Linked DNA regions of Homo sapiens. The protein of the gene in region 6 purifies or fractionates together with the protein of the main gene of each other region. This does not show direct contact. Each region holds a gene or a part of one and is shown on either strand. Other genes may lie near its edges.

The links.
Region 1: the proteins of BFSP2 (region 6) and ZNF521 purify together in Homo sapiens (affinity purification with mass spectrometry; one large-scale study listed by BioGRID and IntAct). This does not show direct contact.
Region 2: the proteins of BFSP2 (region 6) and SPAG5 purify together in Homo sapiens (co-immunoprecipitation; 3 studies listed by BioGRID and IntAct, with this or other methods). This does not show direct contact.
Region 3: the proteins of BFSP2 (region 6) and NPR1 purify together in Homo sapiens (co-immunoprecipitation; one large-scale study listed by IntAct). This does not show direct contact.
Region 4: the proteins of BFSP2 (region 6) and NPR2 purify together in Homo sapiens (co-immunoprecipitation; one large-scale study listed by IntAct). This does not show direct contact.
Region 5: the proteins of BFSP2 (region 6) and ZZEF1 purify together in Homo sapiens (co-immunoprecipitation; one large-scale study listed by IntAct). This does not show direct contact.
Region 7: the proteins of BFSP2 (region 6) and CENPE purify together in Homo sapiens (affinity purification with mass spectrometry; 2 studies listed by BioGRID and IntAct, with this or other methods). This does not show direct contact.

The regions. Positions count from the first base shown.
Region 1 is NC_000018.10:25,342,167-25,345,666, reverse strand, and holds part of ZNF521 (zinc finger protein 521), read left to right. Parts: intron 1-319; exon of another isoform or gene 320-415; intron 416-3,500. UniProt on the Homo sapiens protein: Transcription factor that can both act as an activator or a repressor depending on the context. Involved in BMP signaling and in the regulation of the immature compartment of the hematopoietic system.
Region 2 is NC_000017.11:28,582,026-28,585,525, forward strand, and holds part of SPAG5 (sperm-associated antigen 5), read right to left. Parts: intron 3,387-3,500; coding exon 3,294-3,386; intron 3,191-3,293; coding exon 3,077-3,190; intron 2,721-3,076; coding exon 2,627-2,720; intron 2,456-2,626; coding exon 2,308-2,455; intron 2,228-2,307; coding exon 2,125-2,227; intron 1,962-2,124; coding exon 1,828-1,961; intron 1,625-1,827; coding exon 1,486-1,624; intron 1-1,485. UniProt on the Homo sapiens protein: Essential component of the mitotic spindle required for normal chromosome segregation and progression into anaphase. Required for chromosome alignment, normal timing of sister chromatid segregation, and maintenance of spindle pole architecture.
Region 3 is NC_000001.11:153,688,688-153,691,589, forward strand, and holds part of NPR1 (atrial natriuretic peptide receptor 1 precursor), read left to right. Parts: intron 1-265; coding exon 266-412; intron 413-500; coding exon 501-624; intron 625-765; coding exon 766-834; intron 835-1,017; exon of another isoform or gene 1,018-1,106; intron 1,107-1,118; coding exon 1,119-1,293; intron 1,294-1,596; coding exon 1,597-1,695; intron 1,696-2,902. UniProt on the Homo sapiens protein: Receptor for the atrial natriuretic peptide NPPA/ANP and the brain natriuretic peptide NPPB/BNP which are potent vasoactive hormones playing a key role in cardiovascular homeostasis.
Region 4 is NC_000009.12:35,798,091-35,801,590, reverse strand, and holds part of NPR2 (atrial natriuretic peptide receptor 2 isoform 1 precursor), read right to left. Parts: intron 1,974-3,500; coding exon 1,860-1,973; intron 1,570-1,859; coding exon 1,434-1,569; intron 1,203-1,433; coding exon 1,108-1,202; intron 883-1,107; coding exon 750-882; exon of another isoform or gene 746-749; intron 522-745; coding exon 437-521; intron 1-436. UniProt on the Homo sapiens protein: Receptor for the C-type natriuretic peptide NPPC/CNP hormone. Has guanylate cyclase activity upon binding of its ligand. May play a role in the regulation of skeletal growth.
Region 5 is NC_000017.11:4,136,531-4,140,030, reverse strand, and holds part of ZZEF1 (zinc finger ZZ-type and EF-hand domain-containing protein 1), read left to right. Parts: intron 1-3,500. UniProt on the Homo sapiens protein: Histone H3 reader which may act as a transcriptional coactivator for KLF6 and KLF9 transcription factors.
Region 6 is NC_000003.12:133,448,556-133,452,055, forward strand, and holds part of BFSP2 (phakinin), read left to right. Parts: coding exon 1-90; intron 91-225; exon of another isoform or gene 226-340; intron 341-1,747; coding exon 1,748-1,909; intron 1,910-3,500.
Region 7 is NC_000004.12:103,191,844-103,195,343, reverse strand, and holds part of CENPE (centromere-associated protein E isoform 1 precursor), read left to right. Parts: intron 1-110; coding exon 111-230; intron 231-659; coding exon 660-741; intron 742-902; coding exon 903-970; intron 971-1,049; coding exon 1,050-1,115; intron 1,116-3,500. UniProt on the Homo sapiens protein: Microtubule plus-end-directed kinetochore motor which plays an important role in chromosome congression, microtubule-kinetochore conjugation and spindle assembly checkpoint activation.

The DNA.
Region 1 (3,500 bases), on a different chromosome or scaffold from region 6:
GCTAGTCAAAGTTCCAGAACTGATGGTCCAGTGAGTCTCTTCCAAAACGCCGGTTTCACGATTTCAGCACTTCTGGCAGCATCTTCCTAAAGTGAGGGCACACAAATTCATAAGATTCCACTTGGCCTTAAAAACAAAAACATCTGTTTTATGCATGAGTGGATTGTTGTCTTTTATTCATCCAGCCAAAAAAGGACAAAAAATAGGATACTGAACATAAAAGCATACATGTAAAAATGAAATTACAAAGGGATTTGAGATTAGCAAGCAGCCTTTTATAAAGCAAGCTGTTAATAATTTTTCTTTTTTGTTTTGCCAGAGTATTTCCATATCCTTTAAAAACCACTGTAGTTATCCTTACTGACAGCAGTGACGTCTAACAGTGATGACAGAATTTTTCAACTTTTTGCTTCCGGTAATTATACTTAGTTCTTTGTACTTGCTTATTTGGTCTAGTGCAAGACTCGTAGCATATTTGTAGGAGATTTCTTTTCACCTTAGAGGAACATTTGTACCTGCCTCCCTCTATTTTTAAAGGAGTCTGTTTGTGAGGGCTCGTTAGTCTGGTAAATTCTAGTTAAATACTTGTTGACATAAGTTGAAGCATATTATTAAGTATACTTGCTTGAGTTTTCATTTTGATGTAAAAGCATGTAATAAGAAGAAAGAGGTTTTGATAGTAGAAAAGAGTAGGTCTACTAAGATCAATTAAGAATTTTATTAAGGGTCTCTTTTTCCTATTAATGTGTTTTATTAATTCATCTGTCAGGATTCACATTGCTGGTTTACTGTCATTAATTCTGTTGCCACAGAATACATTCCTCATGGCTGGATTTAATGGATACTATGTTCAGTTTTTCAGTTAATTTTAAGAGGGAAAGTGATTTTAAGACTTGCAGTATTTGTTTATTTTAGCAGCTGTCTGCATCATTAAAAATGTAAATATTATCATTAAGTAAGATGTGAAAGAATGCTTTTGAATTGAATGAGATTTTGATACAAAGGCTGATATTCCACGTCAAACCTGTAGCTAAGTATTTTCCCAGATGTATTTAATTTTTTTCTTCATTGACTCCTGTTGTGCTGTCAAAGGTTAAAGTTAGTTCTAGGGGTGGGGGAGATGCATGCAACTTTCTAATTCCATTTCAATTAAATCTGAAATGTTCCTGTTTTTTGTTTGGGGACTACATGGTGCTAGGATTGCATATACCTTGTTTGTTGTAGTGAAAGCGTACTTGTCTGATTTAAAATATGTTCTGCAACAGTGTTATTACAAAGCAATTAAAACTTAAACATTAAAGTTAACATTAGTAAATTTAAATAGCTCTGTTATAGTATTAATCAAATAGTGTAAGGAAAGCTTTTAAATGGTTTAAATAATTATGCAACTCCTGGCATAAAAAGCCCGACACAAGATAAATCTCTGAAAACTAAGTAGAATCGCAGCTTTTTTTTTTTTTTTAATAAAAAACTTTAATTTTAGGCACCTTGGGCTTTTAGCATGCATCACATTCCACCTCTAGTATAAGTAATTATGCCAGTTTAGTAATTATTAGAGATGAAAGAAATTCAGTAAGATATGAATTCTTTAAAACTTCAGTAGCTTCAGTTTTAGCAGGGATAATGATCAAGCAGCAGTTATCCTGCTGCCTGGGGACCCTGCCACAGCTACAAGCACTGGGCTGATCTTGTGGGTATCATTATTATGGCAGCACATACTATAGTTAGTATTTCTACTCTAGTTGTCAGATTGCAGAGGTTTATAATTTGGTCATTAAACAAATTTAGATTCCAATATGACTGTGTAAAAACTCCCCTTTCTTAGAACACTTTTTAAAAAAAGATTAAGTTTAAAAATTATTATTTTGGGGCAGCATCTCTTTTAATTCTATGGGATAGTAAATGCTTTGAAAAATCCTGAAAAGAAAAAAAATGTGTATGCCTGTCATTTTTATGTGTGTATGTGTTAGGTACGTGTTCATTTTGAATCTTATTTTTAAATAAAGATGATTTGGTTTGGAAAGCATATATACTATTCCCGCATGATCATAGCTCTCCCAATCTGAGCAAGGTCAAGTGATTGACATTCAGAATATTTGTTTTCATAATAGTGCAGTTTGTTGGATTTATATTTCAATATTTTGGTTATGATAATTTTTTTGTATATGTGAAACCCAAGAGTTTACGTCCCTCAGTTATCACAACATATTGTGACACACACATACATAGTCTATATACACGGAAACATACTCTAAACCTTCTGTAGGAAATGCACTTTGTTTAGTAAGTCCATATAAGTGTTAATAATGTTTTAAGGGAAAAATTGGATTTTTTTCCAATTAAAATTGGTGTCAAAGAATAAGATTTCCTTTTTGAAATTAAAATCAGCGTATCATTGAGTCTCATTATTTCACTGACTTTATTACCTTCTCTTTCCATCTTATGATTGGCTTTTTCTCAAAATTTATTATCCCATCAGTATACTGTGAAGGATATGATATGTCAAGATGGAAACTTATTTACCTGATAGGGACAAAATCCTCATTGATTACAGACAGTTCCATATATTCATACAAAATACATTTGTTGAAACCTGTAGTGAGGTGAACAGTCCACACAGTAAACTATAACTTGCCATATTATAGGAGTTTCTGTGACCTGGAATCTAAAAAATATCACTGTGCTTTAAACTTTATATTGACTTCAAGAAACAATTTCCAGCATTTCATACGTGTTCTTAGCTAATATTCTTATCTTTCACAATAGAGCCAGATTAGGTCCAGTTAGTGCTTGAATAAGACTACATATTAATTGCTTTCAGCATTCCTAATGATTTAGGTTGTCTTAGTTGTGTTAAGTTTATCAGACATATGCTTTTTATTACCACTATCAGCACCTTTTGTCTTTCATTGATTACTTTTATACATTAAGAAAAAGAAGGCCAGGCGCGGTGGCTCACGCCTGTAATCCCAGCACTTTGGGAGGCCGAGGCGGGCGGATCACGAGGTCAGGAGATCGAGACCATCCTGGCTAACACGGTGAAACCCCGTCTCTACTAAAAATACAAAAAATTAGCCGGGCGTGGTGACGGGCGCCTGTAGTCCCAGCTACTTGGGAGGCTGAGGCAGGAGAATGGCGGGAACCTGGGAGGCGGAGCTTTCAGTGAGCCAAGATGGCTCCACTGCACTCCGGGCTCCAGCCTGGGCGACAGAGCGAGACTCTGTCTCAAAAAAAACAAACAAACAAACAAAAAAAAAACAAAGGAAAGAAAAGGAAAAAGGCTGTAAAGTCTTCACAAACATTGATCTACCAAGTACTAATGAAGCCAAAACAGAATCATTGCTTGAATGCTGATGTATGGAGTCTGAAGTTCCTATACATAGGGGGGTTTGGGGTTGTCAGTGTGCAACTTGCAAAGTTGTATGATGTTTTGCAGACATGAGGCAAGGGTTAAGAAGAACTGTGGGCTCAAGGGAGTGCATATTAATTCCTGGAAAGAG
Region 2 (3,500 bases), on a different chromosome or scaffold from region 6:
GGTTCTACTGCCTCTGCTTCCTAAATATCTATTGAATCCATTCACTCCATCCTCTCCTTTCTACTGCCTATAAAACTGCCATTATTTCAAGCCTTCAAAATCTGGCCTCCTGCCTACTTCTCCAGTGTTGTCTCCTGCCTTGCCCCACAGAGCTCTCACGCTGCAGCCATGAAGAGCTGCTTCCCATTCCTCAGACTTGCTGCATTCCATATGAGCAGCATCTTGCCTTGTTCATCCTCTAGTCCCAGCACCTAACCCAGGTTTTATAAGGTAGACACTATAAAAAAGAACACATCATGTACTATGTGCATGACTTTCTACGTACGACTCTCATATGTAGTCAGATGAAACTTTCATACACCGTTCCCTCTGCCTAGTGGGACTTCCTAAATACCCTCCCCTGCCCCACAAACGTCTAAACCTCAAGACTGTACCCAAGGTCAGCTGCTTTGAGAAGGCATCCTAATTCTCGAAGGCTGAAGTGGTGCTCCCCTCTCTATCTCTCACAGTGGTCCATGCAGACCTCTACCATGATCATAAGTCAAGATGACAAGTTTACATCTGTTTGTCTTCCATGCTAAACTGTAGATTTGATGGCATTTCCTGTGCTCGGTACCCAGTTGGGGAAGAGGATCAGGTCATAAGCAATTGCCAGATTTTAGGATATTTGTTGTGCCTTATCTGCTGAATAAGCTAATTACCTTTGTATTCTGAATGATGTCAACCATTTATTGTTTAGTGCACACTGCAGGGAGGCCAAAGAAGGCTATATTTCTGCTTTCTTGAAACATAGTCTGGTTGAAGAGACCAGGTATCCAAGGAAAATTAATACAAATACAAAAGAAGAGTAAGTTCATGAGAAATATGGCAGAAGAAAAGATCACCGGGTCCACATGATTTGATTTGGGAACAGTTCAAAGAAGGTAAACCAGGGAAGATTTCTTTTTTTGTGGGGGAAAGGGTTTCACTCTCACCCAGTTTGGAGTGCAGTGATACAAAAAAATTAGCCAGGTATGATCATGGCTCACTGCAGCCTCAACTTCCCAGGCTCAGGTGATCCTCTCACCTCAGCCTCCCAGATAGCTGGGACTACAGGTTCACAACACTACACCTGGGCTAATTTCTGTATTTTTTTGTAGAGATGGTTTTCACCACGTTGCCCAGGTCGGAAGGGAGGATTTTAATAGAAAAGGCATTTCCAGTTTGAAGAAAGAATAGAATGAATGTGGGAACAGCCAGAGTCTGGGTTCTGGGGATAAAAATGGGGACATGTGTGTAGCATACAGGCAGTCTAGCTGGGGCAAAGTGTTCATAATAGGGAGATAGGAGACAGGGGAAGAAAGGTTTGAGCAACAGGCTAATGAGGTCCTGTAGGTAACTGAAATCATAAAAGGTCACAGTTAGAAAAAGAGTAATGTTTTAGGAAGACTATCTGTAAAATAAAGATACAATTGGAAGAGAAGAGAAGGAACCCCAGGATCCTACCTTCTCCTTTAGTTTTGTCTGTAGAAAGAGAGTCAGGCTCTGTAGTTGCTCAGTCAGCAGCCCTAGCTTTTGAGAGTACTGCCGTGTTTTCTCCAGATCTTGCTCCTGGTTATCTGCTATGGTGCTGGCCAGTTTAGCCCTGAAATAAGGAACAGGGAAGATGACCAAAGACCAAATTACCTTCTCTGAACGCCTATCCCAAATCCCCACAGAGCTGCATTAAAGGAGAGAAACAAGAGGCTCAACACTCACAGTTCTCTTCTTGGAGATTTTGGCTTCTAGAAGTGTTCCTGAGAAAAAAATAAGCACTTAGGGGGAAGTACAGAAAGTTAGAGAACTTACGTTAGGTTCTCTACAGTGTCCTTGAGGTTCTCACACTGCAAGCTGCGCTCCCGGAGCACTTCCAGTGTGGTTTTCAATTGACACTCAACCTGACCCAGCTCCAGGTGAGCAACCTGATTCTCCTGGTCTGCAAACTGGGAAGACAAGAGAAGGAGCAAGACAGGGAGGGAGAATTTTAGTGCCCTGGGTACAGAGGCTTTTTCTAGTTCACAGTCTCAAACCTTACCTCAACACTATCAGGCAAGAATCACACTCCTGAGGCTTACCAGCTCCCTTGGCCCAAGCCATATTCCTTACCTCCAAGGTCTCTTTCAGGTCCCGCACCTCTTTGGCCAGGACAGCTTGTTGCTGCTGCAGTTCTGCCTGCATGTGTTTTAGTGCCATCTCTTCCTTTTGCCATCTGCCAGAGACAACATATTAGATCCCATTTGGTCCTAAATCCTGGATGCCTACTGCCACAGTACCCCGTTAGGAACTCACTGAGCAGCCTGCTCCTCATTGCTCTGGGTAAGCTGGCAGAGTAACTCATCCTTCATAGCCAGGTCCTGGGCACAATGGGTATGCTGACTCTGTAGCTCTTTTAGCTGGCTGTCCATGTTGGCCAGAATCTGCAACTGAGCCCGGAGATCTAGAACAAAAGTATCCTAATGACACCATGCGGTCAGCAGGCTAGAAACTCCCCAAACTTCTGCTCCAAAGCAAGTGCTCCTGAGTACTTCCTTGCTCTAGTGCCACACTCCAAGCCTTAACAGGGCTCAAATGCTTACATGCATGCATACACACACACACACACAAACACCTGTTGCTAGACGACTGTTTTCCAACTCCAGTTGTTCTGTTTGGCCTTTGCACTCCTCTAACTGGGCAGAGACTTGTTCCAGCACCCTAGAAACCTAGGAAGAACAGATGGTTTTCCTCCTATAGTTCCTCCTGAATCAATAATCCCAGGACTTGGTCCAGCTTCTCTTTCTGGACAAGACAGAAAACTACCTTGCTCCTGGGCATCAACATTGCAGAAAATAAGGTTGATCCTCAGGAAAAAGTAGAGACAGGAGAAAAGTTGCTGAAGTAAAGATGCTGAAGGGCAAAGGAAAAAACTGCGCTTAAGGCCATCTTACAGCTAAGAGACCTTACTGGCTGGCCTCCAAACCCACAGGGTGAAAAGAAAACAGATCCAGGGTAAGAGGCTAATGGTATCACACATTAGGAAGGAAACCAAGCCTAAGCAGTCCCCACTCTTGGTTTGTACCTCCTGCTTTTCCTCAATTGCCACATCACGTTCCTGCAGGGCTTGCTGGCTCTTGACTGTGAGTTTCTCTGTGAGTTGTCGGGACCGACTCAGCAAAGCTGTCCATGTTGTATACTACCAGGGGAAGCAAGCAGGTCAGTAGAGCACACTTGAGGCAAAGCTCACAACAGGACTTGATGTGAGTAAGGAATTAGTTATGATGGTCCCAAATACTCACATCCAGTTGCATGGACCTCCAGTCTTGTTGCAAGGTAGAAGTAAGACTCACTGTCTGCTGAACCAGCTCTTCTTGCTTGGCATGAAGCCCTACCTACAAAAGAAAGATTGCCTAGGCGGGAACCCCTTCCCTTTGGATACAGCAAAGTGGGAGTATGCAACTACCCTCCCAGTCTGTCAGCACAGACCCCAGGAAAGAAAATGCCCT
Region 3 (2,902 bases), on a different chromosome or scaffold from region 6:
CCTCCTTCTAACTCACTGGGTTCAACAAAGATGAACAAAATGTCCATATGTCTGAAGCTTCATACTTGACCTTGGGGTCTCAGAAAAGAATTGAACTTTCTTCCTTCTGTTTTCCCCTGCTCCCCGGTATCCTGCTATGCCCTCAACCCTGAGCGTCTCTAGAGACCTCACTGCAGTCTGGAGGGGGAAGTGCCTAGGGGCGGGCGCTCACGGTAGGCTGTGCTGCTCCTCTCTTACCACCCCCACCGCCACCCTCTGCCCCCAGGGAGAACAGCAGCAACATCCTGGACAACCTGCTGTCCCGCATGGAGCAGTACGCGAACAATCTGGAGGAACTGGTGGAGGAGCGGACCCAGGCATACCTGGAGGAGAAGCGCAAGGCTGAGGCCCTGCTCTACCAGATCCTGCCTCAGTGAGTGCCTGAGTCTGGGGACCCCCCCCAACACAAAGCCCCTGTCCCGACCCCCAACTCTGATCCTGCACCTGCCCTGACCCCTTAGCTCAGTGGCTGAGCAGCTGAAGCGTGGGGAGACGGTGCAGGCCGAAGCCTTTGACAGTGTTACCATCTACTTCAGTGACATTGTGGGTTTCACAGCGCTGTCGGCGGAGAGCACACCCATGCAGGTAGGCCAGGGTTCAGCCACAGGTGCCAGGCAAGCTCAGCATCTGGATCCCACCAGACCTGCCTTCTGGTTCTGCTTTACCCACCTGACCCCAGGTGGGGTCCCCTACTTCCTGTCTCTCTTAGCTTCTCTTCCCTTCCAGGTGGTGACCCTGCTCAATGACCTGTACACTTGCTTTGATGCTGTCATAGACAACTTTGATGTGTACAAGGTGAGGGTGGGAGTGGGGATGGGAAGGGACAGACAGACATGGACAAGGTCAGAAAAAGATGAGGGGTAGGCAGAATGATGTGGAGTCTTAAGAGAGGAGATCGGGGACACGGGCAGAGACAGTGACACAGGGAGACCCGGGAACAGGCAGAGAACCCATGTGGGATGGGGGATGAGCAAAGACAGATGAGGGTACAGAATGACAGACGCTGCACCCGGTGTGACGGTGTGGCCGGCCGCACAGTTGCAGCCGTCAAGTCCTGCACCCCCTCGCCACTCCCACAGGTGGAGACAATTGGCGATGCCTACATGGTGGTGTCAGGGCTCCCTGTGCGGAACGGGCGGCTACACGCCTGCGAGGTAGCCCGCATGGCCCTGGCACTGCTGGATGCTGTGCGCTCCTTCCGAATCCGCCACCGGCCCCAGGAGCAGCTGCGCTTGCGCATTGGCATCCACACAGGTAAGGCCACTGAAGGTGCAGGCGGGCATCCAGAGGCCAAGGCTTCGCAAGGGAAACTTGTCCCCTGGCCCAGCCCCTCGCCCTTTCATCTCTCTCTCTCTCTCTCTCTCTCTCTCTCTCTCTCTCTGTCTCTCTCTCTCTCTCTCTCTCTCTCTCTCTCTCACACACACACACACACACACACACAGAGCTGGGACCTCAGATCCTGCCTCCTGCCTGTCTTGGATTGTCCACCTACCTCCCTTAACACCCCTCCCTCCCTCACTCGCTGATGGGCTCTGCTCCTTCCCTTGCTCCTCCCAGGACCTGTGTGTGCTGGAGTGGTGGGACTGAAGATGCCCCGTTACTGTCTCTTTGGGGATACAGTCAACACAGCCTCAAGAATGGAGTCTAATGGGGAAGGTACAGTGCCCCCTCCTAGAGGGAATGGGGAGGGCAGGGTGGCTGAGGGAAATGCCATCCTGGGGCAGCCTGTGCCTGCACAGCCCGTTTCAGCTCCTAGCCCTTTCGCCTCCCAAGTTCCCCTTCTCATAATATTAAGAGTTCAACCTGGGCTCATCAACTTGACTGTAACCAGAGACTCAGGTTCCTGCTGCCCCTCTTGTCAAACGATGTAAAAGTATTTCCGGGCCAGTGCTGGAGAGTTCCCAGCAGGAATCTGATTTTAAGACCCTCTGTGGGCCGGGCGTGGTGACTCACACCTGTAATCCCAGCACTTTGGGAAGCTGAGGCAGGCGGATCACCTGAGGTCGGGGGTTCGAGACCAGCCTGACCAACATGATGAAATCCCGTCTCTACTAAAAATACAAAAAACTAGCCAGGTGTGATGGCAGGCTCCTGTAATCCCAGCTACTTGGGAGGCTGAGGCAGAAGAATTGCTTGAACCCGGGAGGCAGAGGTTGCGATGAGCCAAGATTACACCACGCACCCCAGCTTGGGCAATAAGAGTTAAACTCTGTCTCAAAAAAAAAAAAAAAAAAAAAAAAAAAGACCCTCTGCTCCACCTTTGATGTGGTAAAGATGGCTTCAGAGCCAGCATAAGTGAGGCTGTGAATCTCAGCTCCACAGCTGGCTGTGTGTCAGTTTGCTATACCTCTCTGAGCCATGGTTTTCCTCATCTGTAAAAAGAGGGAAAAAATCTATCTCACAGGAATTATGTGAGAAACCCATTAAAAATGTCTACCACATAATTGTCATTTAACTTTTCCAAGCCTTAGCGGATTATCTGTAAAATGATGTCTATCTCAGGATTGCAAGAAGCCTAGCACAAACCCTGGTACCCAGCAGGCACCTAATAAATTCTTACTCCTACCCGCCCCTTGCTCTTGCCTCCTGTTTATCTTCTATCCTTCTGCTGTATTCGACACAATTCAATGCAGTAAACATTTATTGAGTGACTACTGAGTGCCAGGCCCTGGGATAGTAACATGGCCCAGATCCAGAGTTAGCTGAGAAATTCATGTGGACCCCATCTAAACCTTATGGTGAAAGAAAGGCTGCTTGGGAGCCAGTCCTGGGAGCCCAGAGGGATCTAGTTCGGCAAATATTCCCTGGGCACTATTTTGGGGGCTGTCAGAGTACAGCCCCTTGTTGAGGGTCCAGTCCTCAA
Region 4 (3,500 bases), on a different chromosome or scaffold from region 6:
AAGCCAACAGCAGGGTTGCAGGGGCTTCCCTGCAGCTCCTGAAGCTGCAACTGTTACACCTGAGAGACAGGGCTGGAAGATAAGGCTGCATTCTCGGCATATCTGGCACATGCCCTATGCTCACTAACAAACACAGAGACTGGGGGTGAAAGTTCTTTCCTAAAAGAAGACCAATGGAAAATTCACCTTTGATCTTAACCCCACTGAAAAACACTAGTTAGTATATCCAGTCTAGGACCAAAAGTGGAACAAACACCTAGGCTAAGCGACAACTAAAGAGAAAGGCTAGAGAGGAAGACGCTGTTGGATCTAAGAGACAACCAGCAAATTAAGAAACCTACTACCCTATCCCACATTATAGGGACCACCTGGCTTCAGCCAGAGGTTGTGTGGCAATGGGGGCAGGGAGTAGGTCAGCAAGAAACCCAGAACTCACCGGAAAATTAGGAAGCTGGAAACACCAAACATGATGAAGGTGATTCCTGTGCCCAGAGCCACAATTGCCAGGGTTGAAAGTGGAGCTGAAGGGGAAATAGAGACCCTGAGGAAGACTGTGTGCGGACTTGGCAGAATGGAGAACGGGGTGCATAGGTGCATAGACAGACTCCTTGGGAGTAGGAAGAAATGAGGAGGGAGGGATGCAGACGTAAAGGCAGAAGCACAGTTAAGAGTGGAGGGTCAGTGAGGGTGGAGGCCATGAATGGAAAGCAAAGGGAGGAAAGCTGCTCCCAGTCCCTGCACACACCCACTTTTATCACAGGATGGGTCGTCCAAGTCAAAGGCACAGGGGGGATTGTCCGAGGGAGGAGCCCCCTTCACCCAGGGAATAGGCCGTCCCGTCCACCAAATCTGCTTCTCAGCTCCCGAGTAGTGGGCTGCAGGCTGTAAGGAAGCAAAAAGCTGGGCCCACAGGCCTGCTCCCACCAGCCTCCTCCCCAGACCCCAGCTGTTTCGCTGCTTTTCTCCCCAGCCTACCACCCAGCCAGGATGCAGTGCCAGCAGAGAAAACAAATCCCTCATCTAGTAGTTTTGGTTCTGCCCCGACTGAACCCTTGAAAGCTGGATTTTGCAGGGCCACACTCTCTTCCCTGCCTCCTCCTCCATCACCTGAAAGTCCCCAGAATCCAGGTCTCCCATGGCCCAGAGGACAAAGTCAGTCTCTCGGTCATTGTTCTTGTCCATGACAACCAGCCCAGTTACACCTAAGACAGAAAAGAGTGTCCTTTCTTTGAGGTCTACCCTGGGCTCCTCTCCCACTCACTCATGCCTACGGCTCCCTCAGAGTCTACCCTTCCCCGATCTTGAGGTGTGGGCAACTCTGCCATATTCACTAACCCCCACTAAAGCTGTGGTGATCCTGACATCTGTTTCTTCTTCAGCCCACTCTATTCCTGACATCAGCCCTCAGACCCCCATTGACCCCTCTTCATTACCGTGATATCTTCGTCCCTGCATCTTTTCCACAATTCGAAGTCCATCCTCCCGGGTGCCTCCTTCCTGTATTGTCTCATTCAGGACTTCAGCATATAGCAGGATCCCATCATAGAAGCAGCCAGCGATGAGGTTCATCTGGGGGTGGCAACTTCAGCAGTACTCTCCAAATGTCCTGCAAGGCCCCTTCCCCTCTCTCTGGGGTCTCCCTTCTACCTATTCTCTCTTCTGGTTTGCTTTCTTCCCTCTTATTCCTAAAGTGCCATCCCTTCCTAACTACTCCATAGGGCAGAAGGAAAAATCCTGGACAGAAGCGGAGACCCCCCAAAGTTGGGCTTGCTCCACAGCCAAGACTTGATGCTGAGTTTGGGAGAGAAGCCCTTCCCCAAAGCTTGACCTGACTCTCAGGAAGGGAGAGATCTACTTACCAGGGAAGGGCCCAGCTCCACACCAAAGTCTTCCCGGGCTCTTATCAGCAGACGATTCTGGAATTCCTGATACTCAGGATTTGGGGGTTCTCGGTACGTGATCACCAATACAGTCTGTACCAGCAGCATATGGGGAAGAGTGAACAGGATTCAAGATAGGCATTATGGGAAGAGAAGATGCAGGACAGGGAAACTTGGTAAAATATACATGATATAAAATATACACAGGTGAGTCTGAAGGCTTTGAAAGGGCTACTAACCTCTCTCTCTCTGCGTGTGTGTGTGCGTGTGTGTGTGTGTGTGTGTGTGTGTGTTGTGTTGCATACATCTGGGAAGAGGGAGTGGCACTCCTCCTGAAAGGTAGATAGGACTGGTTCTGGGAAGGTGGAAACTGGCAAATAATAGTCAACCCCATCCCCAAAGCCCAGCCCAACATCTTCCAGAGCTCCCTTCCAGCATCCAGGTTCCTGCCAGGCCACCACAGCTCACACGGCTCCTCTGTCCCATGCTTTCTGGGTATCTGCTTATGATCAAGGACAACACCCACTAACAGCTCCTCTCTGAGATGTTAATCACTGTTAATGTCATCAGTAAAATACTAACATTGTCATTTCGGCCACTTGAACACAGTGTCTCCGCCCAGTGAATTAGAGAGATTTCAGGCCCTATGACAACTGAGGGAAATACTTTGAGACAGTGATTCCACCTGTGAAAAGCTGTGTGCTCATCCATTTAATGTGTGGAACACCTACCACAAACAGCACTGTCCTGCTTACTGAGTAATAGATGTGTCACAGGGACAAACACACAGTCACATGCCCACACACATTTCACAGGTAAGCAAATGACACATGTGATCTCAGACATGCACACATCTCACTGGCGCATGAGTCAGCATCTCTGTCTCTCACCAAAGTGCCTGCTTGGCTCCCATTAGTCTCACACATTTCCCCTTCCTGAGCTGCTGGACCTCCCAGTCTCAGGCCCTGCCTCAGGCCACATAGTCACTGAGACCAACTTCTGCTCCAACAGGAAACTGGCATCACAACTTCAAGGAAAGACTTCAGTTCAATATATTTTATGAAACATGACTTTGTGAAATGATAATTTAAAATCCGGTCATTTCTCCCAGTTTTGTTTATTCTTGTCATAGAAAGTACATGTGGACCATAGAGATACGCTGCACTAGACACATCACATATGGCCTATTATGTATCAATTCATTAGAGATAGGAAATAATAAAGTCGATTTCTAATATGCATTCATTATATTATATTAGACTGCAGCTTGCCTCAAGATATCATTATTCTTACTAGAGCATTTAGCTGCCTGATTACACACTTCTAACATTCTCCCAGTCTCAGGTAAAATTTTTTTAAAAAGAGAAGGGAATTGAGGAAAGGGTTGAAATAGTTCATTCAGTAGCACCTGTTCCAAGAATAAAATAAAGAGGTAGAATATTGTTGACAAGCAATGTAAAAAGTCAGGAAAAGGGCGAGAAAAGATCAGGTTCAACACAATTTATATTTCAATAAAGGCTGATGATAGGTTTTTAACACATTTTAAACACTAATTCTCAACACTAAGTTTGGCTAGTTTGTTAGGCTAGCAGTTATCAAACTTTTGGTCTCACAATCGCT
Region 5 (3,500 bases), on a different chromosome or scaffold from region 6:
CATTTTCCACATTCCAACAAGCAAGAAAGGGAAAAGGGAAGGAGAAGGAAGAAGCCATGCCCACTCTCTTACGGGCATAGCTTACATCCCACAGGCCAAAATTCAGTCACATGGCCGCAGTTACCTGCAGGACAGGCTGGGAAAGATTCTTTTTCCGTGGCCATATATTCAGCTAAAACTCAGGGCTTAATTATTGAGGAAGGGGAGAGAAAACATTGAGTTATATTTGGCAGTCTTTGATTCACATAGCTAGGTCATACAGTTCTGTGAGTGAGGCTTAGCCAAGGTTTAAAAACCTGATTGTGATAATCTCACAGTGGCCACCGTCTCTCATGATAATCTTGTGATGGCTGCTCTGTCTGTAAGAACTAGTAAGTTAGGACTAGCCAAAGAAGATAAGATTTAGCCATGCATTTGATTCTGTGCTTTAAGAATGTCTATCCTTAGACTTGAATAAGTATATACTTTTGTGCATACTTACACAGTTAATTCTGCGTTGTTAATCTACGTCTAAGCTTTTGAGAATATACTGCTGTATTTTACTGCAAGATGAAGGGCTTGTGAAGTAATGTCTTTATAGTAGCAACTAAAATGACAAGTTGTTTCCGTCATTCGTTTTTATAAGAGCTAACATGGTAAAACAGATAGCCACGGGTGCGCATGGTTTATTATAATGCTGAGAGTTTCCAAGTGTTACATGTTTCTTCTTTGGCTTCCCAACTTACGCTGCCATTGGTGTCCACGCAGCTGTCTTGCTTTCACATTCCTGTGACCTCAGTTATTTGAGGAGGTGTTATAAAGAAGTTCTTGGAGTTGGACCATGGACCAAAGTCTGAAACATTATCATTTTATAGTACAACACACCTTTTCTCATGGTAGGTGTGGTCCAGGGAGAAGGTGCGCATGGTTTATTATAATGCTGAGAGTTTCCAAGTGTTACATGTTTCTTCTTTGGCTTCCTAACTTAGCTGCCATTGGTGTCCACGCAGCTGTCTTGCTTTCACATTCCTGTGACCTCAGTTACTTGAGGAGGTGTTATAAAGAAGTTCTTGGAGTTGGACCATGGACCAAAGTCTGAAACATTATCATTTTATAGTACAACACACCTTTTCTCATGGTAGGTGTGGTCCAGGGAGAAGGGACTCTCTCAGTTTGCTCACAAGGAGCAATATTTAATTAACTGCCATGTAGAGGGGAAATAGAATTAAAATTAAGTTCTTATTTCACATCAGAGGTTATAGATTAGATATTTATGCTCTTAGAGTATGATTCTAGAAAATCTTCTAGGGCAGAAAAACGTGCTGAGTACAGGATAACAGATGGCCCTAAAGTGAAATTTCATATGAATAGGTTGTGTTTTATTAATTTGCCACATAGTTTTGGTGCCTACTTTGTGAAATTCGTGGGGTGGTAAGCTCTAAGGGAAGGGCCTTTTTGATTCATCTCTGTTCATCGTCTTAGCACAGTCCTGGGTGGTTGCCAGTGCCCAGGTGCTTTGGGAGACTGTAGAAGTTGTAGTCCACACACACTCAAACCTCATATTTTATATTCAGTCTGTAACCTTTTAATATTTCTTGACATTGAAGGAAACGGTTAAATATGATTTTTGTGAAAACTTTAAAAGGTTCTTAGTCACTTTCGGGTTTACAGGAAGTTTGTAGAAAAGCCCTGTGCTCGTCTTCATATTATTATGTGAAAAGTATTAATCAACTAATTTAGAATGGCTTTGAGCCCAGGAACTGTGCCGTAGGAATCTGCAGATGTGATTATCTGCCCTTTTAAGACTATTGACTGTAAGAGCTGTGTGTGTGCACCATAAAGCAACAGCAGGCTGCCAGCTTTTCTTGCCTTCAGCCGGGAGCCCTCAGCTCTCCACTACCCAAGGGACCAAATATGTATTTGTCTGAATCGGTTGAAGCCCACACATCAGCCTAACTCTCTCAGCTAATTTACCTTTCCCCCACCTGCACTAGCCCTGTGCTAGCTAGTGGGATGCCTGCTTTGTTCCTAACTCCCTTACCTAATTTATCTTCCCCCTACCCCCGCATGAGCCCTGTGCTGGCTAGTGGGACACCTCCTTTGTCCTGTGTATGGACCTTGCTATCAGTTCTTGAAGATTCCCCACCTTGGCACTGTCACCTGGTCAGCACCACATCTTCTGTGGCATGATTCAGATAGTGTCTCCATAATGGTGTTTTCAGCCCTACAGCTGAGGCTCCTGTTACCTGTTCTGTACAGATCCTTTGGCACTTAGAGCATACTGTCTGGCCTTGCTGTGCAACTAGGCTGTGAGGCCGCCAGCCACCTGCCTGCACTACCATTGTACACAGGAGGTCTTTGGTAAGGGATGGCTGGCTGTGGATGGTGATGAGGCAGTACAGGAAAGATCCTTGGTGAGTGGAGATTATTATTATTATTATTTTGAGACAGAGTCTCTGTTGCCCAGGCTGGAGTGCAGTGGCACAATCTTGGCTCACTGCAAGCTCCGCCTCCCAGGTTCACACCATTCTCCTGCCTCAGCCTCCTGAGTAGCTGGGACTACAGGCGCCTGCCACCACGCCCGGCTAATTTTTTGTGTTTTTTAGTAAGAGACGGGGTTTCACCGTGTTAGCCAGGATGGTCTCGATCTCCTGACCTTGTGATCCGCCCACCTCGGCCTCCCAAAGTGCTGGGATTACAGGCATGAGCCATCGCACCTGGCCGAGTGGAGATTATTTTTGCTTACTTTGGCTTTGTGTGTTTTGCTATGGGGGAGTTAATGGTATTGGTTTCTTTGGAGAAATTCATGACCTAGGAGAGCTATGGAGGAAGGGCCACAGCTCTTTTGTCTCTCCCTGATTTCCAAAATACCACCTCACCATGGTACTGCCTTGCTTTAGAAACTTCAGTGGCTCCCCATTGCCTTCAGAATCACATCTGAATGGTGGAGCAGCCTTTACACTCTTATACCTTCTACCCTTGTCTCCCAGTGCTCTTTAAGCAGCCACTTTATGGTCCCGTTTCCCATGTATGTGGGAATTTTGTCCTTTGCTCTCCTTCTCCTCCTGTCTGCTCCCTGCTCCATCCTAAGCCCACTCCAGTTTCAGGGACCACAGAGAAGCAGTTACCAGCAGCATGGAGTTTGAGAAAGGCTTCATCACAACAAGGCTTGAGAGGCTGGAAGAATTCGCCTGGCAAAGGAAGGAAGGGATTTGCCGTATGAAAGGCACAGCATATGCAGATATACTGGAGTGAGAGGGCATGGCACGTTTTGGGAATGATCCTTTAGCACCTAGCCTACAGTCTGAACCAGCTGGGACCTTGGTACTCATTGCCTGCAAGCTGCCCCCTCTCTGCCCCCGAAAAGGGACCCCTTTCATAGCAACCTGGACGGGTGTGTAATTAGCCTGTAATGGCATCAGCGGGTTTGCCGTGTTATGAGTCTGCTCATTCTGCTGTTCTTCAGACTGAGCTTGGGAACTGGGCCTCGAGCCAGCCTGCTTGTGAGCAAGTTCTAGTTC
Region 6 (3,500 bases):
GATGAGGCTAATTTGACTAAAATGGACCTGGAGAGTCAAATAGAAAGTCTGAAAGAAGAACTTGGCTCTCTATCAAGAAACTATGAAGAGGTAGGAGGGGGCTGGGGTTGCTGGGTTGGCCACAAGACCAGAAGTTCACATCTGTCTGCCTGTGCTTCATAACAAGGCCACAGTAGCTCATTTCTGACTCTCCACATTGCGTGCCCAGGACTGCAGGGAACATACCTGTAAAATACTTTCAGATCCTTGAAGTGGGTCAGGTTACCCCAGCAGTCTCAAACTCAAATAGCTTCAGGAACCAGTGTGGTACAGAAACAGGGGAAGGCAGCCAGTCTTGGCACTAGCAAATGAGGGAACTTGTGTTAAATTAGAGGGAGCAACCCCTCCTCAATGCATTCTATGTCAGGTTTTTTTTTCAACACTGTATTATACAAACAAAACAACTCTGAGGGTAGATCCAAGCTGTGGTTGACATCTACTCATTAACAAAACTGGGTCAGATTATTGAGTGACAGAACTGAAGAGGACCTCCAACAGTTATGGGGTCTAGTTCCCTGCGAGACTTCAGCAATTCTAAACCACCTCACACATATTACTGTCTGATCCAAGATTTAGGCTGCTTCAAGTTGAAAGAGTCAAAACCCACTTAACGATGCTCACATTGGGAAGTTCTTTCTTGAGACCAACTTAAGCTAACCAGCAACTGTAAGCCCATTTCTTCTTGTTCTTAGCTCAGTGATTTAAGACTACTCTCCAACAGTAACCATTTAGAGATGCCAAAGTTATCTTTTAAGTCTCTTTCATCCTTGTCTGGCTTTATGCATAAATGCCCTGTGCTGTTGTTGCTTACTTTGTTTTTGTTTTTGTTTTTGTTTTATTTTACTTTAAGTTTTAGGGTACATGTGCACAATGTGCAGGTTAGTTACATATGTATACATGTGGTTTTTTGTTTGTTTGTTTGTTTGTTTGTTTGTTTGTTTTATTTTGATTTCTGCTTTGGGCCTGGGCTTGTGGAGACCAACCTAAGAAATGCATCCTTGGTGCTAGGCATGGTGGTTCAAGCCTGTAATCCCAGCACTTTGAGAGGCCAAGGCAGGGGATCACTTGAGCCCAGGAGTTCAAGACCAGCCTGGGCAACATGGTGAAACCCTGTCTCCACTAAAAATACAAAAATTAGCTGGGCATGGTGGTGTGTGCCGTGCCTGTGCCTGTAGTCTCAGCTACTCAGGAGACTGAGGTGGGAGGACTGTTTGAGCCCAAGAGATGGAGGCTGCAATGAGCTGAGATCATGTCACTGCACTCCAGCCTGGGTGACAGAGTGAGACCCTGTCAAAAAAAAGAAGGAAGGAAGGAAGGAGAGAGAGAGAGGAAGACAGACGGAAAGAAAGAGAGAAAGAGAGAGAGAAAGAGAAAGAAGGAAAGAAGGAAAGGAAGGAAGGAAGGAAGGAAGGAAGGAAGGAAGGAGGGAGGGAGGGGGAGGGAAGGAGGGAGGAAGAAAGAAAGAGAGAGAAGGAAAGGAAGGAAGGAAGGAAGGGAGGGAGAGAGGGAGAAATGCATCCTTGGGAAAAGAGAAATTACACTTACGCTGGGAAGAAGGTCAGGGACTTTCCCAGTCTCTGTGAAGCCTGTGTCTGGCAGTTGTGGAATGAGAAAAGAATTGCCCACAGAGCTGGTTTTCTGCTGGCTAGAATTCTATGCCATTTATTTCCCCCCGTAACTCATCTAAGATGTATATTGTTGTTTTCAGGATGTGAAGCTGCTGCACAAACAGTTGGCAGGGTGTGAGCTGGAACAAATGGATGCTCCCATTGGCACTGGTCTGGACGACATCCTTGAGACGATCAGAATTCAGTGGGAGAGAGATGTTGAAAAGAACCGGGTGGAGGCAGGAGCCCTGCTCCAAGCTAAGGTGAGAGGCAGGACCAGCATCCTCCACTCTGCCCTATGCAGAAGGAGGCCACGCTGAGCTGCAAACTAGTCAATGTGCAGACGAAGAAATAACAACGGTTTAGTAACAAGTTCAACCTCATTAGAAACAGAAGAAATGAAAATTAAAATAATAGCTTTTTGTTTACCTATCTAAAAGTAGAAAATGTTTAAAATGGTAAAAATGCTGGCAAGTATGTGGAGAAGTAGGTTCTCTACTGTATTACTGAAGAGCATAAACTAGTGCACTGCCTTTGAATAAGAAATTTAGTAATATGCACCAAGAGTGTTAAAATGCCCCTAGCTACCAACTGAATAATCTGAATACAATCCTGAAAGAATAATTGAGGCCGGGCGTGGTAGCTCACGCCTGTAATCCCAGCACTTTGGGAGGCCAAGGCGGGCGGATCATGAGGTCAGGAGATCGATACCATCCTGGCTAACAGGGTGAAACACTGTCTCTACTAAAAATACAAAAAATTAGCCGGACGCATTGGCAGGTGCCTGTAGTCCCCGCTACTCGGGAGGCTGAGGCAGGAGAATGGTGTGAACCTGGGAGGCGGAGCTTGTAGTGAGCCAAGATTGGGCCACTGCACTCCAGCCTGGGCAACAGAGCAAGACTCTGTCTCAAAAAAAAAAAAAAAAAAAGAATATTTGAAAAAATAAATCATCTGTGTCCAAATATACTCACTGAAGCATTATAAGAGTGAAAAAAACATACACATTTACTAGTAGAAGAAAATCTAAGCCACAACCTACCTATGTGCAGTAAAATATCAGGCAGTTATTAGAATTAATGTTTATGAAGCATTTATAAAATAGGAATGTGTTCATAATATGAGGTAAAATGAGGAGAAAATGAGAGTACAGAATGGTATATGCCAGAAGCCAAAAAATATTCTCTGTAAAGGACCAAACAGTAAATATTTCAGGCTTCTTGGGCCAGATGGCCTCTGTTGTAACTCCTCAGCGCTGCCACTGCAGTGTAAAAGCAGCTGTAGCCAATAGGTAGCTAATGAGCATAGCTGTGTTCCAATAAAACTTTATTTACAAAAATAAGCGGTGAGATGGATTTGGCCTGTGGACTGCAGTTTGCCACTTCCTGGTATATACAGTAGGGTAAAGCATTCAAACAAAGAAACTAGGCATTGAGAAAAAATTTTAGAAAGAAAAGACTAAAATGGGATTAGCAGTCGTTGCCTTTGAGTGATGGATCAGTCTGACACTTTGAGATGTTTTTTCTTTTTTGTTTTTGAGTATTTCTCAAGTTTTTGTTAAATAGTATACATTATATTCATGGAAGAAAAACAACTTTTATTAAACCTCATAAATAATACAGGAATTAACCAGAAAATAGGATGCATAGGGTTTGTTCTTCCCTTCTCCATCTCCCACCCATTTCTGACTTTGTAATCTTGAGACAGAGGATGAAAAGTGACAAGGAAGGAAAATGTGGAAAAGTAGAGAAAATAAGGTAGATGTCTGAGTTAAGGCAAAAGGCTGTTTCTGAGCTCTTGATTACTATTTAGTGGTTCTTGATCCTGGCTACGCAGCAGAATTATTTCAGAGCATTT
Region 7 (3,500 bases), on a different chromosome or scaffold from region 6:
TCTTAGTTTGTTTTACATACATTTTACCTCTTTAAGCACATGAGCATTTAGCATTAGGTTTTCACAATTGGATGCTTCCTGGTGTTTTTATATAATTTTTTTTCTTCTAGTTTCCTGATAGGGAATTTCTCTTACGTGTATCTTACATGGAAATATACAATGAAACCATTACAGATTTACTCTGTGGCACTCAAAAAATGAAACCTTTAATTATTCGAGAAGATGTCAATGTGAGTAGCAGACTTAAGGGAGCTTTAAAATTGACTGACTTATTGAGATTATTGTTCTTGAATGTTTACCTTTAATTTCTATAGTTTTTAAAGTGTCTCCTATTTCTATAGTATGTGAGGGTTTTTTTGAAGTATTTATATTCATCTTTTAAACAATATGAATAGTTTTAAAATACTGACAGCTCTAATATTTTGGTTTAAGTGTAAAAATAGCAAGTTGGAAGTATCAGGTTAGAATTTGTTGTGCTTTGGTATGTGAAATAAATTGTGGGTATTCATAGAATTATTTGTTACATTCCTACAGAATTATGGTTCCATTTGCCACTTTTAACTTTCACAAATGAATTCTATAATAGTTTGCACCTTCTTTTGAAAAGCAAACTTGTGACTTCTATTTCTCTAATCTTTCCATAATTAAACTTGTTTCAGAGGAATGTGTATGTTGCTGATCTCACAGAAGAAGTTGTATATACATCAGAAATGGCTTTGAAATGGATTACAAAGGGAGAAAGTAAGACTTTATGCTGTATTTCTTTAGAACACTTGTAAAAACTATCTTTTCAATCAAGCACGTTTGGACCTCAAATCATACTTTTTTAAGTTAAAATAAAAATTATTGTGTTTCTATGGATTTTATTATATATGCAGCTGAAATATAACTCATTTTTACAGAGAGCAGGCATTATGGAGAAACAAAAATGAATCAAAGAAGCAGTCGTTCTCATACCATCTTTAGGATGGTAGGTAATTCTATCTATCTGTTAGATCTTTCCAAGTAAGAATGCACTAATTTTTCTACAGCTTGCCTTTTCTATCTAGATTTTGGAAAGCAGAGAGAAGGGTGAACCTTCTAATTGTGAAGGATCTGTTAAGGTATCCCATTTGGTGAGTATTAATGAACCATAATAATGTACTGTATGGGCCAAAACAAAATTTAATTTAGTTGCTGGATGTTTGGTTTAATAAGAACTGTTAACTAAACTAAATGTGGGAGGAAATCTACAAATTGTCTGCTTAGTCTTGTCAGTATCATCAAATTCCTAGCTAAAATGTCGTAGGAAAAATTCAGAGGATCTTTCTTCCTGTTATGTCATGGTTGCCATCTCCTAAAATTTAAATGTCAGGGCTATAGGGTTATAGGAATTGATGTTTTTTCTAACCACTAATGCAGTAGAATTTTTTTCTATACACATTTAACACTTTAGATCATCTTAGAATTTGAGGGTCTTTTTGTAAAATCTCAGCCAATGTAATTTAGACTTATGTGATCAACAAAAATCTAGGTTGGATGGTTAAAAAGTAATCACATTACTTTAGGTTTTACTTAAGTACAACAATAAAATATATTTTGTATTGTAAACGTAGTACTTTAGACTGTAAATCCATTGAGGAGTGATACTGCATTCATCCTGGTAGCCCCAACACATTATACCTATTTTATGTCTAATATAGATTTGCTGAATAAGCGAATATATGCATTATGCAAACATTCCTATATTCCACATTAGTAAACCTTCACTTCCTTCTTTCCACACTAAATTATTGCTGTTTCTTTCTTGCTCCTTTTCTATCTTTTACCATATTGCTTTATTCTGCATTTTTAGGGCCTAAATTCTTTAGCTTGATGTGGGATATGATTTAAGATTATTTGATTAGAAAACTTCAGGGAAAAAAGCAATCTATAATATGTTTATTCATTTTCAGATTTTATAAAATTAGATTATTAATTACTTAATATTCAATCCTAATTTCACCTTAGCTATTTTGCTATAAAATTGTATAACTTATTTTAGTAGACTTTAATCTTGTTTTAATTTAACAATAAAAAACCAAACCCTAACCTCTTTAGTTTTCTCATCCAAGACTGTGATATTTCATATAATTTTAACTTTTAATAATTTAGCTTTAATACTCTTGGCATATTCAGTGATCTACTTGATGATTTTCCTCATGTTACGTGATGCTCTGTCATTTGTGTTCCATCTGTTCCAACCCTCCAGCCTACCCACTTACTCTAAGAATCTTCTTGGAAAGAAGTCTCTAAAGAGTCATCTCTGTCTCTTTAGAGGTGGCTCTTTTCTGATTATCTCCTGGCCTTGGTGGGATGATAATATCCAGTTTCTCTTAGCTGTACTCCTCTGTTTTCTACCCTGGCTTCTTTTTCCCTACCCTCCTAAAAAAATAATTAAAAAAAAAAAAACTTGGAGGTATTCTGTGACGTTTCTTACTCAAGTTCTTGCTCTCAAATGTTCTGTCATCATTTCCATGTTGATGACTGCCAAATATTTTACCTATAGTCTCTGAATTCTAATTCATGTCTTCCTAAAGATGGTTATAATTGTGTCCCATCATTATCTCAAACTTTAATATGTCTAAAACGAAACTATTTTCTTCCTACCATAGTGAATATTCCTTATTTCCAGTAAAACCAGCATTATCCTAGCTGCCTAAGCTGGAAACCTAAGTCAATTTTGACTCATCTTTTTCTGCCTTTCTCTTTGTCCACTTGTCCCATTTCTTACTGATCCTACCTTTAAACATTTCCATGGGTGCTACACTCATTTACTTTCTCATCTCTCTTGAATTACTATGTCAGTCTCCTGGAACCTTGTCTCCATGACCCTTGTCTTTGTTTCTTGAAGTCATCATAAGGATTTCGAATATACTAACCATTGCTTTTGTATATCACTTCCTGGGGCAAGATTTGGCCACTCTTAACCAATCTAACTTTATTTCCTTCTGCTCTACATGAACTCCTCCCTCATAGATTGGGCCTCTGAGTATCTTTGAATATGAATGCTTGTTCTCATCTTTAACCTTCACTCATGCTGCCTTCATTACCACTTTGCCCTTTTATTATGTATCTGTGTCATCTGTAGTGGACACTGTGCAAGAAAAATTAGCCTCCTTAACTGGTAATACATATTTACCTGCCTAGTCTCAAAAATCTCCACAGAGAGAAATAACGTAAAGCTTTGACTTTCTTTCAAATCACTCACAATATTTACTAAGTTGTTATTGTCTTCTGAGCATGGTGTTGGGCTCTGAGATTAAAAAAACAATAAACAAGACACCCCTTCACTGCTTCTCTTACAAGCAGTCTCCTCTGCCACCTCCCTAACCCAAGCTGGTATTATCTCTCACCGAGATTCCTGCCCCAGCTGCCTGATGGGGCTGCCTGCAGCTGCTCTTGCCCCTTCCCAATCCATCCTCCACCCAGTAGTCATAGTGGATCCATTGTGAGAGTCATTGCTGAGCTTTATGCAAGGT